4 separate regions of the Homo sapiens genome follow, and regions 1, 2 and 4 are each reported to be linked to region 3. Evidence: microRNA targets listed by miRTarBase, many of them from high-throughput screens and not tested one by one. Region 3 holds a microRNA gene; each other region holds the end of a gene's coding sequence.

The links. The annotated mature microRNA hsa-miR-1207-5p reads UGGCAGGGAGGCUGGGAGGGG and lies in region 3 at 2,084-2,104, opposite strand. An mRNA with a match to its seed (bases 2 to 7 or 8) in the 3' UTR can be bound and repressed. Matches are read on the target gene's strand: a 7mer-m8 pairs with bases 2 to 8, a 7mer-A1 pairs with bases 2 to 7 and ends in A, and an 8mer does both.
Region 1: the mRNA of ASXL1 is a reported target of hsa-miR-1207-5p. Seed matches in the 3' UTR shown: 8mer at 868-875 and 7mer-A1 at 1,611-1,617.
Region 2: miRTarBase lists MORN4 as a target of hsa-miR-1207-5p. Seed matches in the 3' UTR shown: 7mer-A1 at 2,612-2,618, 7mer-m8 at 2,119-2,125 and 7mer-A1 at 1,830-1,836.
Region 4: the mRNA of PTPN9 is a reported target of hsa-miR-1207-5p. Seed matches in the 3' UTR shown: 7mer-A1 at 1,273-1,279, 7mer-m8 at 1,817-1,823 and 7mer-m8 at 2,375-2,381.

What each region holds. Positions count from the first base shown.
Region 1 is chr20:32,436,872-32,439,984 of GRCh38, forward strand. ASXL1 (ASXL transcriptional regulator 1) reads left to right here. Exons shown (of 13, transcript NM_015338.6): 13 at 1-2,448. The coding sequence ends at 467. Among named protein-coding and RNA genes, the nearest start is that of ASXL1, 80 kb to the left of the region's middle.
Region 2 is chr10:97,613,510-97,616,509 of GRCh38, forward strand. It overlaps MORN4 (MORN repeat containing 4), which reads right to left. Exons shown (of 5, transcript NM_178832.4): 5 at 1,046-2,902. The coding sequence ends at 2,754. Among named protein-coding and RNA genes, the nearest start is that of MORN4, 18 kb to the right of the region's middle.
Region 3 is chr8:128,048,139-128,051,262 of GRCh38, reverse strand. MIR1207 (microRNA 1207) reads right to left here and starts at 2,111; the gene lies at 2,025-2,111. All of the region lies in intron 6 of PVT1 (Pvt1 oncogene), which reads right to left. RefSeq lists a cis regulatory region at 1,720-1,972, enhancers at 1,851-2,396, 916-3,032 and a silencer at 2,585-2,768.
Region 4 is chr15:75,466,138-75,469,261 of GRCh38, reverse strand. PTPN9 (protein tyrosine phosphatase non-receptor type 9) reads left to right here. Exons shown (of 13, transcript NM_002833.4): 13 at 279-3,124. The coding sequence ends at 493. Among named protein-coding and RNA genes, the nearest start is that of SIN3A, 16 kb to the right of the region's middle.

The DNA of each region.
Region 1 (3,113 bases), not on the chromosome of region 3:
CTACTGGGCATAGTCCCCTGGAACTGGTGGGTCACTTGGAAGGGATGCCCTTTGTCATGGACTTGCCCTTCTGGAAATTACCCCGAGAGCCAGGGAAGGGGCTCAGTGAGCCTCTGGAGCCTTCTTCTCTCCCCTCCCAACTCAGCATCAAGCAGGCATTTTATGGGAAGCTTTCTAAACTCCAACTGAGTTCCACCAGCTTTAATTATTCCTCTAGCTCTCCCACCTTTCCCAAAGGCCTTGCTGGAAGTGTGGTGCAGCTGAGCCACAAAGCAAACTTTGGTGCGAGCCACAGTGCATCACTTTCCTTGCAAATGTTCACTGACAGCAGCACGGTGGAAAGCATCTCGCTCCAGTGTGCGTGCAGCCTGAAAGCCATGATCATGTGCCAAGGCTGCGGTGCGTTCTGTCACGATGACTGTATTGGACCCTCAAAGCTCTGTGTATTGTGCCTTGTGGTGAGATAATAAATTATGGCCATGGGAAACATTGTATATTTAGTGTGTGTATTTTGATAATGATTGATCTTAAATCTGTATACAGAATATCATTGATATAATACTCTTTAGGCAGGAGCACTCTTGCCTTCCCCCAAAATTTACACTGCTAAAGCCCTCTGTCACTTGGCGACCCTTCTGGTCTTGCTGGAGGGGTTTCCTGGGTATAACCCATTGGGCTGCCCAAGGCCAGCCAGCCTGAGCTCTCCTGCAAGACAGAGCCTGATGTGGCACGGAGTGGGGTTGCGGGGGGTGGGGGGACTGCCTGACTCCCAGAGGGACTTGAAACTGAAGCAAGAAGGTTGCATTCTCCACCAAGGGAGTTAACCTACCTGAACTAAGTAGAAATGCCAGTCTTCCACTACCCCCTCCCTGCCATCTTTTCTTCTGCTACTTTGGGGAGTTGATGGCCAGGAAAGAAGCCAGCACAGGGTTAAAGTAACTCCTGGCATTGCCCACCAGGGGGCTGGTGCACCTGCTGACCTCAGGGTCACAGTTGAGTCATTTGCCAGTTGACGGAGCAAGTTTGACCTTGGTTCTGTTGCTGAAGCAAATTTGGAACTTTTCTGTCTCAGTGTGATCCACTAACCCACAGGATCATTTGGAACCTTGAATAGCTCTGCTTGGACAATGGGGTTGGGGAATAGGGTTGTCTTTCCTATGAAAATGCCATCTGTAGACCTTGTGAGTCAGCCGTCCAGATGTTTGCAGGTGAATTCCTCTGCTTGACATCCTCCCTGTCACTTTGGACCCTATGGGAGTGGGCATCTCCACGCACCTGTGTATGTGAAAGTCATTTTACATTTCAAAGCAGTGTGTGTTTCTTATTTTTATATTTTTAACTCTTTATTCTTGGATGTATAAAGTGAACTTTTTGGCTTCTGTAAGTATGCTCTATGCACCTCTAATGTTTTATCATGTATTTATATGTTGTACACAGTACTGGCTGATTCTGTAAATGGATGTATTGTACAGAGAACATGAACGTCTCTTCCTAATTTTACATCTTCAGCATCATTGCATTAAAGTGGTGTAATCTCCTTCTCTACATCTGTTGTCAGAGCCACTGAGTGCTGTGCTGCTCGACGTGAGGGTGAAATGATTGACTTGTGACCTGCCAGGTTGCCCGATGCCCTGTTGGGTCACCGGCTGGACCTGCTGCAGCCTGCAGAGCCACAGTCAGCCTGCCCACATGCCACCGAGCAAACGCATCTTGCTTTTCACATCTCTCCTCCTACAGCCTTAATGGCTGCTTGCTGCCATATGTGACAAATCACCACCACCAGTGTTAAGTGCTTCTGGATTCATGGGTGAGTTCCCTGGGCAGCCCCCAGGAAGGCCTTCCAGATCTGGCTCCAGGGTCACCACCTGTCACAGCAATACCTGGGACCATGCTCTCCTGGGACTGTGAGGCTCCTTTTGACGTACTTTTGACATCAGGCAGGTTTGGGAAGAAACAAAGCCATGCCTGCTCCTGCCTCTCTCCCAACATGTTTCCAGCAAGTAGATGCCCCTGTGTGTGTTTTCCCTTGCCTTGTTTCCTGCCTTATATCTTGTATTTCGACTTATTACAGAGTTGAGGGTTCTTGCTTAATTTAGATCAAGTATAAAATTTGTATGACTTCAAGTCTCATTTTATCTGAAAGGTTTTTTTCTCATTTAATCTGATGTGGCATTTTCGTCATCTGAAGCATGAGTGACAAGTTGGGAATGATGTGGTGATTTAGAATGCAGTATTGGCCAAGTCCAAGTTGTCAACTTAAGCGTCTGTTTACCAAAGACCGGGAACAGGGGCCCAAACATGTCCAGTCCTCTTCTTCCCTCTGCTGGAACCTTTGGGGACACTCAAGGGTACAGTTTGACACTGATCTGGTCCATGAGGCTGCCCAGAGAAAGCACTGCTTCTGTATGTCTCTTGTGGTATTGGAACAATAAACCCGTACAACCTGCAGTTGTGGTCTCAGTCATCTGTGGCTGCCTCGCTGGTGTGGGAAGGTCAGCTGGAGTGCTGAGCTGGAAGGGAAGGAGTAGACGCCAGCTCTCCTCACCTTGGCTCTGGAGCTACTCTTCTTATACTTGGAGCTCTTCTTTTGGGAGGTTAGTCCAAAAGGAATGACTTGGCAGCTTCACTGGTCTTTAGCCATTCATGACTTGGCGGACTTCACCACATAGACTGCAGTCAGCGTTCTACTGAGAGCAATGAGAATGTTTCCCCTTGGGAGTGCGAGTCACAAACTGTGACATCCCTCTGCAGCAACTCATCCAAACAGCTTCACTGAGGTTGAGGTTGCCAAGTGGCTTCCTAATGGTTAGTGGTCTTCTGTGGGAGGGTGACTAGCTCTAACCTTGGAAAACCTTAACCACAAGCACCTCTTTCTGTAGCCTCTGGTGGCAGTGAGAGGAAGGTGCTGGCCCAGGGTGGGGTGTCTGATGCTAGTTGCGTGAGCCTGAGTAGACGACGTGCTTCAGGGATTGACTTCTTGAGAAGTCCTCAGACGTCTCTAGAGTACGTAAATACATTGACTTTGTGCTTATCAGAAATAATTTTATTAGTATATAAATAAGCCAAAACAGCAAAATGATGGGAGTTTAAACATATATTCATTAATTTTTTCC
Region 2 (3,000 bases), not on the chromosome of region 3:
AGCTACTCAGGAGGCTGAGGCACAAGAATCGCTTGAACGTGGGAGGTGGAGGTTGCAATGGGCCGAGATCGTGTCATGGCACTCCAGCCTGTGCCACAAGAGCAAAACTCCATCTCAACAACAACAACAAAAAAGGATGCTTTCTCCAAAATATTTAACCTTTTTCAGTGGTAATATTTGACTAGTGGCAGAAAAATGGAGATACATTGTAAAAAAATTACTCCTTAAAAGAAAGTGTAAGGTTAAAAAGAGAGGTAAATAGATACTTGTTTAGGGCAGAGGCTAAAGGAGAGAAAATAAAAGATCTCAATCTTCAACCCAAAACCAGGCTCTGAATGGCACTACAGCTTGGGGCTTAGTGCCTGGGGTCCTCTCACAGGCAACTTCCAGAGGAGCAAGGCTCAGAGGAGAATCAAGTTTAGGACTTGGGGGAAAAGTTAGGGCTAGGCAGGCAGGGTAGTGCACTGGGTAAGAGCTCAGCCTCTGGGCTTAAACAGGTCTGGGTTTAAGTTCTGGGATCTGCCCCTTAGTGTCTATGGGACCTTGGAGAAACTGCTTAACTTCCCTGAGCCTCATCTGTAATACAGGGATAATAATAGTACCTTCCTCCAACAAGGACGTGCATGTAAAAGGGTTAGCGTGGGGGTCAATGTTCCACCACTCTCCTGTTGCAGAAAAAGGGAAACTCCGGCAGGAGTGGACCTGCCAGAGGTAACCCAGCAGGTGTGGCCATAACTAGTCTCAGGACTTAAGTACTCTGATGCTCAGGGTGAGAGAGGTCCAGTAAAGGGAGCTGGAATCAGAAAGGCTCGGTTACAAATCTCACCCAGCTGTGCTACCTACTAGTTGGGACAGCCTGAGATTGTCTGATTTAAATAAGAAAAAAAAGTTCATACGTCCTCCTCTGTAGAGGCTGAGAAAATTAGATGACTTGATAAAGTGTGCAGGGTCAGTTCCAAGGGCTAACCCGATTAACTTTTACAAACAGCAAATGGGTTGATATTCATGAAGACGCAGGGCCAGAAAGTCAGGAAAACTAGGTATAGGCAGTTCTGGTGATTTCTTTATTCTTTATAAACACCTTTTTCTACAGTACAATTCAGAGAATAAATAGAGGCACACGGCTATAACTTCCACCACAATCTGCTGTTGAAGAGACATTCAATGTGAGGCTAGGGAGCTAGAGGTGGGGGACGTATTTGGGTACCAGGGTAACGGGAGGCCTACGTAATAAACTGCAGAGATCCCATCAGTAAGGTCTGATTGCGGCCTGACGGTCAAGGCTCATGATAGAAGAGCTACAGTGAGCCAAATGCTCCTTTAGTTCCCCACAGTCCTAGAGTAGGTCCAATTCTACCAAAACCCCAGGGGTTCGGGTGAGTCTGATTTATTGGTCCACTGGGAAGAAACTGTGTCAGCCCAAGCCATCCGTATGAATTCAGTTCACTCCATGGTAGTGCCTGAAGTGGCCTAAATATTCTACCCTTTTCCCTGGAGTTAGTCACAAATACAAGTAATAAGATTACTGTTTACATGAGTTTTTTTCTTGATTGTCCCAAAAAGGGATCCTGTTCCCCATCTAAGGAAGGAGAGAGGCACACATGGGGATTATCTGCTCTAAGTTGATGAAAGAAGACAGCCTGTCTTCTAAAGGGAGGAGGAAATAGCACTCTTACCGAATCCTTCACGGGGACATAGGCAGGAATGAATACCAGTCTGATCAGACCAAGTGGAAGCCTGCAGCCATGATTCCAACCAGCATGAGGAGTAACATATGGAAAAGCTCTGCCAGCCAGGCACAGTGGCTCACACCTGCAATCCTAGCACTTTGGCAGGCCCAGGCAGGAGGATCACTTGAGCCCAGGATTTTGAGATGAGCCTGAGCCACATAGCAAGACCCTGGCTCAATTTTTTATAATAATAAAATTAAAGGCTGAGCGTGGTGGCTCACGCCTGTAATCCCAGCACTTTGGGAGACCAAGGCGGGTGGATCACGAGGTCAGGAGTTTGAGACCAGCCTGGCCAATATGGTGAAACCCCGTCTCTACTAAAAAAAAATACAAAAATTAGCTGGGTGTGGTGGCGCGCTCCTGTAGTCCCAGCTACTCAGGAAGCTGAGGCAGGGGAATTGCTTGAACCTGGGAGGCAGAAGTTGCAGTGAGCTGAGATCATGCCACTGCACTCTAGCCTGGGCGAGAGTAAAACTCCATCTCAAAAATAAAAAATAAAATAATAATAATAATAATAAAAAAATTAAAAAAGAAAAGCTCTGGCCTTGACTTTCACAGGGCTGCTGTACTGAGCCACCCCTATCTTTTCCCTATTTCTCCAGAGTGGCACAGAGCACTGGCCCTAAGCTGGGGCTAGGATCACCTGTCCCCAAAGCAGCAGAACGAAGGTTCTGTATCACTTGGCAGAAAATGAAGCAGAAGGGTCACAGCAGGCTACACTGGGTAACCTGAGGTCTTAGGAACAGAGTATCAACCAGTGAGAAGAGGTGGCTCCTCTGTCCTCCAGCACATAAGGGTTAGGGAAAGACAGAACCACCAATGACTGCTGCAGGGTCTGCTGGCCAGCATCCTCAGCACTTTTCTGTGGTCCAGTTCTGGAATGGCAGGTGACAGGGCACATACAAGGCCTCTGCTCCACTGTCATTGTCAACTCATCTCAGCTCTGATTCATTTGTTCACCTCGAATCAACAACAGGGGCACTGGCTTTACCCAATACTTATCAGCTGGTGCCCACTGCGCTGTCAGGCAGTGAGATTTCTGGCTGACTTGGAGGCGCTCTGGGCCCGCTGAACAATGGCAGAACACTTCTCACGTCGCAGCAGCTTGTTGTTCTCAAAGAGACCTTCATTGCGGGGGATTCCATGAGAACCATCAGGGAAAGTCAGCAGGCCTTTGAGGAGGGCAGAGAAAATATGGGAGTGACAATGGCATTAATGTCTCAAAGATGAGACATATCTTTGGCCTTGATATGTCCAGGCCAAAGAAGAG
Region 3 (3,124 bases):
AGGCTTGGCACAGATTCCCAATAATGCAACCTCCTCACTGGATGATAGGCTATGTGAAGACAGAATCTTCATTTTATGCATCCTTACAACTCCAGTGTGAAGCACAGACACAACATATCATGTGCACTCAATCAATTTCGTTCAATGAAAGAACAAGTGACTCTCTTTCATTCTCTTGGAGTTGAATACTCAATCGTCCCATAAATGGTTCCAGTGCTCAAGCTGAGAATCTTACACCACAGTCAATGCCCTGAAGAAATTGAGACTGTGCTGGGAAGTCAGACACAAAAAGAAAGAGATGAGGTCCACTCTTGCTGTCATACATGAGGAACTAAGAGTCTTTCAAACAGAGGAAGATGACTTTGTGGCAGAAAAACCCACAGAGGAAGTGAATGATGGAATGGAACTTGAGGACAGGTGGAGTTTGAATAATCAGTGGGGTAGTCAATTAGAAGGTTAGGGAAAACCCCATTCATTTATCTGACAAGTCAAGCCCCAGTAGGAGCCTTTAGACAGGTTCTTCTCACAAGAACCCTGCAGGTAGGAACTATCAGCCCAGGTTAATGTCAAGGATACAGAGGCTTGGAGTGGTGAGGTGACATTCCTAGGGTCACAGAGCCAGCAACTGTTGGAGCTGAGGTCTGAACCCAGCACTCTCTGAAGCCAGAGCCCATGGATCTCTCAGGCATCCAAGGGAGAAAAAACAATGGGATCAAAGCACAGACGTCAAGGAAAGCAAGTAGTGTTTAAAAGACAAGAAGTGAGACCTGTTTACCAGAACTGATTCCCCACATAAGAGGCTCGGAGGCATTCAGTCTTTATTCACAGGCTGGAGTGATGTTGCGGTGGACTTAATGCCCCCTGAGAGGTCTGACTTCAAGCCTGTGGGTGACACGGAGCTACTGTTTTTGAGTTGGACAGGGACATGGTCAGAACTGTGCTTTCAGAATTTGGACTTGGCCACTGGAAGAAGAGACAGTTAAACTCAAGTTGCCCAACATGAGGCATGGGATGGGAGAGGTTGGGGAAGGGATGGAAGGAAACAGAGTGGGCACCAACAGGAAGGAAGCAAAGTCAGGAACTGCTGGCTGGAATGGGTCCAGGGAGAGGGAAAACCACTTCTCCTTCCTCTTCTTATGATTGCAAGATTAGTACTTGAGAATTAGGCTGCACAGGCCAGGACTTCCCAAAACTCAGGAGGGAAAGAGCCCAGAGCACGTGTCTCCAATGGAGGCTATAGTTCCAAATCACGTGATCATCGGTCATCTCCTTGCCCACCCTGAAGCCCTTGTCCCCAGTGTACTTTGGGCTCAGACAGTCCCTCAGGGGATACAGCAGTGTCCTTTCCTTCAGCATTCAGGGCAAATGAGAGGCAAAGAGATCAATGGAATGCAAAAGCGTTACTATAGATGAGAAGTCGGACGCACAGAGAGGTTCCACCACTTGCCTAATATCACACAGCAAGTACATGCCAGAATCAAAATTCAAACCTAGAGCCCCGGTGTAAACCTTACCTGAATCAGTCAGGGAGCAGCAGGGAGGCAGTGGAAGGATAGGCCCCCTGACCTCACTCCCCGCCTGCCTTCCCATCCTGCCAGTGCCTTCCAAACTGATACCAGAGAGCATGGCAGCCCTGTGTTGCATCCACCCTGATAATGCATCCACACAGGTCAGCCTTCTGGGCACAAAACAAGGCAGAGAAGAGCAAGGAGTGGACCTGGAGGGGCCCACGGAAGCTCCCCAGCACCCACCACTCCAATGGCCCAGCCCCTGGTAGGTCTCCAGTGCCCTTCACCCTACAGAGCCACAGAATCCCCAGACCTTGACGCTGCAGCTAGGGCCCGCCTGCCTCTCAAGAGAAGGGCAGGGCCCCACACAGGCAAGTGCTCTGCCTCCGCGCAAAGCTGGGCATGCGTCATCACACTCCCGCCTTCCTTCCTCATTCACTCTCCCTTGCCCTGCTTCTATCAGTGGCTCCAAGACGCAAACATCTCGAAATGACCTGCTTCTGTGTAGGTCAGCTAACAGAAGTGCTGTCTTAAGAAATGAGGGCCAGCTGATGCCCACTACCAGACCCAGCCAGCCCCTCCCAGCCTCCCTGCCAGCCCTGCACATGGAGGCCTGGCGGCCAGGAAAAAGAAAGGGCTCCTATCTCTGATTCCTCAGGGCCTCTGATAAGAAATGTCATCCCTTGCTGGGTAATATTACCAAGCCAGATAAAAATCTCTATCAAGCTTAAACATATGGCTGGCTGCAGAACACAGAGTCCAGTGGAGAAGGGTAATTTATTTGCTTAAGCTGAAAACCCTGGGCAGCCGAAAGAAGTGCCTGAATAAAAGAGTAAGAGCCAAATTATAACCTCTTCTGACTTGGCATGGGGATTTTTCCCTGGGAAGGATGAGACACCTGAGAACAACAGGGGGCTCTCCACACATTTCTCCTGACACAATAAGCGCTTTCGCCTTCCTCTTTCTTCAAAGGGCACTTTCACTTATGCTATCACATTTAATCCTCACTACAACCTCAAGAGAGGCATTTTTAGCTTCCTTTACAGATCAGGAAATTGAGATTCAGCAAGGTTAAGTAAAGTGGCCAAGGTCACACAGGCAGCCATGCTGGAGCGAGGACCCAAACCCCAGCAGGTCTGACTCACCATCAGATGGGGAAGCTGATCCCAGCTTCTGGGGAGGATCGGCTCATACATCCACTTAATCAGCGAAGTCAGATCTGCCCAACTTAACTGACAATGTCAGCTACACATTGTAATCTTGAAGGTCCATTTCAAGGCTCTCCCGTCTCCTTGTTTCTCTGTAGCCTAAAGGATAATGAGAAAGCCTTGCAGAGCACAGAAGCTCAAGGAAAAGGACGGGAGGCCAGGGATAGTACCCAGGAGAGCAGTGAGTGACCTCAGGGCTTAGATTCCAGCCTCATATGCTCAAGGAGTAGCAGGTAGAAGGAAACTGTGGAAAGAAAACTCCTCTCTCTGTTCATTCATTCATTCACAAATATTAGTGGAAAGCCTATTGTGTGCCTTCTCTAGCTTGGCCTTGGAGATACCAATGCAAATGGGCAGGCTAGGACCTGCCTTCATGGATCGTCTGTCTTCTAGAACTGACTTACAGGT
Region 4 (3,124 bases), not on the chromosome of region 3:
TGGGATTGAAGCAGGAAGTTCCCCTGTGTCACCTTCCCATTTCCACTTCCTGTTACCCCAAGTGTATGTCCTGAGAAATAAGAGGCCTTCTCATTTCTCTGGCCTCCAACACTCCCTGTGACCTCCTTCTTGAGTCCTTTCAGGCCTAAGGCCACCTGGCCTTCTGCCATGAGGCACTTTGCCTGTGAAGTCATTCATTCAGTTCTGCCTGGGTTATTTGGTAGAGGGAGGAAGAGAAGAGAGGTAAACCAGATGTGATCACTTCCTTCCTTCTTCAGGTACCTTCTGCTCACTGGACATCTGCCTGGCACAGCTGGAGGAGCTTGGCACCCTTAATGTGTTCCAGACGGTGTCACGCATGAGGACCCAGAGGGCCTTCAGCATCCAGACCCCTGAGCAGTACTATTTTTGCTACAAGGCCATCCTGGAGTTCGCAGAGAAGGAGGGCATGGTATCCTCTGGCCAAAACCTGCTGGCCGTGGAGAGTCAGTAACTCTCCTACGAACCTCCTACCTGTTGGCCAGCCTTCCTTAAACTACCCTGGACACCGCTGAGCCTATAGGTTGCCATCAGTTACGCTGAAGCCATGGATCAACTTCTTTCTTGTGTCTCCCAGCACACGTGTGCACGCAAGGCAGCCTTTCCCTTTGGCTAGATAAATGTGGTGAAATTGCCACTAGAAAGGGCCAGTAGCAATGTGTTCTTAATTCCTAGCATCTGCTATCAAACTGTGCCTTATTAAAACCAAATTGTGGCTATTGATTTTTGCTAGGGTCCCCGAGGTAAGTGGGGAAGGAACCTCCCTCCTCCTTTCTCCCGCCATTCTTTTTCTGAGGTCTCCTGTCTCCCACTCCTTCCCTTTCCTAGGATTTTATGGGGAGGTTTGATGAGCATTTGCCTTTCTCCCCAGAGAGCTTGACCAAGTTACATATTCTAGAGATCGTCCTGAGTGCCAAGCACGTTTATAAGTAGGGCGTGTATTCCAGTCCTTTCTGTCATTCTGTGTGTGTGTGTGTGTGCACTTATGTGTATGGGTCCATATGTACGTGTGTATATAATATATATTGTATGTGATAATATGATCGTATTCTATAAATACATATACACACGATACTCCTTTCCAGAAGTTCCTGGGGCTCCGTGTTGCAGTTCAGGACTCCTTGCTTCTTGGACCCTACTATTTATCCTGGACTAGCTTGGGTTGGTGATCATGTCTCCTCTTGTCAGGCTACAGAGTGGTGGAAGAGGACACACACACATCTCCTCCATGTTCCTGCCACAGGGCCCCTTCCTTAAGTAATGACTTATCTCCTTCCAGTTGCCACCTGTTGGAGCCAAGAATGTATTAGTTTGTGGTGACACTGGGTTAGCTCAGCATGGATTTCCCTTATCCGATGATTTTTCTACATTTACTTGGCCAATTTGGGGAACAGACCTCCACTGTGATTCCATACTCTCTCTTTGCTTTCACTATCCCAGGGATGGGAGGCGGAGGGTAGAGATGAACTCACTGAGCAGCCAGAGCCAAATGCAATCGGTACGAATCTTAGAAGGAAGGAGGGGGAGCCCAGGTATGAGAAAGAAAAAACCACTAAGAAAATACCTCCCTGGGAGGATGAGCTGGGGCCCTTTTTCTTTTGCTGGATGGTTCCTTTATGCAGCTTGGCCCTGTCTACCGAGATGCCCATCTCTTCCTGCCTGCTAGCCTGCTAGACCCTCAAACTGGGTGGGTTCTGTGTCAATAAAAAGCTTCACCCCCTGGCTGAGTGAGGTGGTCCCCTGCAATCACTGTTTGTCCCCTACCCACCCAACCTGTCCCTGCCTGCTCCCAGCCCACTCATCCTTATGTGCTAGGGATAAATCAAGAGTCCTCAGCACTCCACATTCCCAAAAAATCCCAGGAACTCCTAAACCTTCCCCTGTGACAGAAGATGAGGTTGGCAGCTGATCAGACCTCAATAATTTTATACTGTAATAAGCTCTTTGAATGTGTATATTATTATTTTTTACAATCATTTCATTTTGTATTTAATATCAATGGACTGAGTCTGATTCAGAAAATAATTGTAATGTTCATATTCAATATCTTACAGTGATACAGTTTTGTATTTACATATAAATATACCGACATGATCAAAACCCTTTTAGCTTCATCAATTTAGCAGCCTGGGACATGAGGGAGGGGGTCCAGGAGCTGGTCTGGGAGGGATGAGGGAGGCAGGGAGGGACCCAAGCCTTCAGTATCTGAGACTTTGAGTTCTGACACTATGAGTTCACCTTGTCTGTAGGCCATGGCCCTATCTCTGGACAGAGGGACCAGCACCAGTTCAGTGCTTGAGATGTGCTAAGCACTATGCTAGGTGCTTTTCCCCCACCCTGCCTCATTCAAACCTCACAACAATTCAGTGAGATATTATCTTCTCTCCCTTCTCCTGTGCACCCCTTTCTCATTTCTATATAGATGAGGAAGGTGAGGTCCAGAGGGTTACAGTGATTTGCTCTAAAACGAGCTCAAGTTGGTCTGCTTACAAAGCCTGTGGTCTCTTCACTGCATGGAAGATGGAGATCTTGTGTTTGGAGAACAGAGGTTTGTTTAGCTCTCCTTTCAGAGTAAAAAAAGTTCTTAAATTCCAGGTTGTTGTTCTTGTGCCCATGCTTCATGTAGTAGACGCGAAGGGTGACAGGGTTGGTGACTGACTGTCCTAGCTAGGACCTCCTGATGTAGGGTCCTCATGTCTGCAGCGTACCAAAGGGGTTATCATTCTCCCCAGGAGACTCCATATCTATGGGTACATGGTCTTTGTGAGAAGATCTTGAGTCATTTGCATTTATCTCTTAGAAAGAAAGGAACCAGAAGCTTTGTACATGGAAGACCACTCCCCATATCATACCTGTTGGCTGTTGATGGCCTGCCCAGTTGGGGCAGTTGTGGCTGGGAAATATTGGGGTGTTCTTAATAATAGTCATAGCAGCCAATTTACTGGATGCTCACTCTATTCCAGGCACTGTTCAGAGTAATTTCTAGGTATCATCTCATTCACCCTCAACAACCTTTTGAGGTAGGTATTGACAGAAGAAAAAAATTGAGAGACAGGAATGTTAATTTGCTACAGCCAGGATCCCA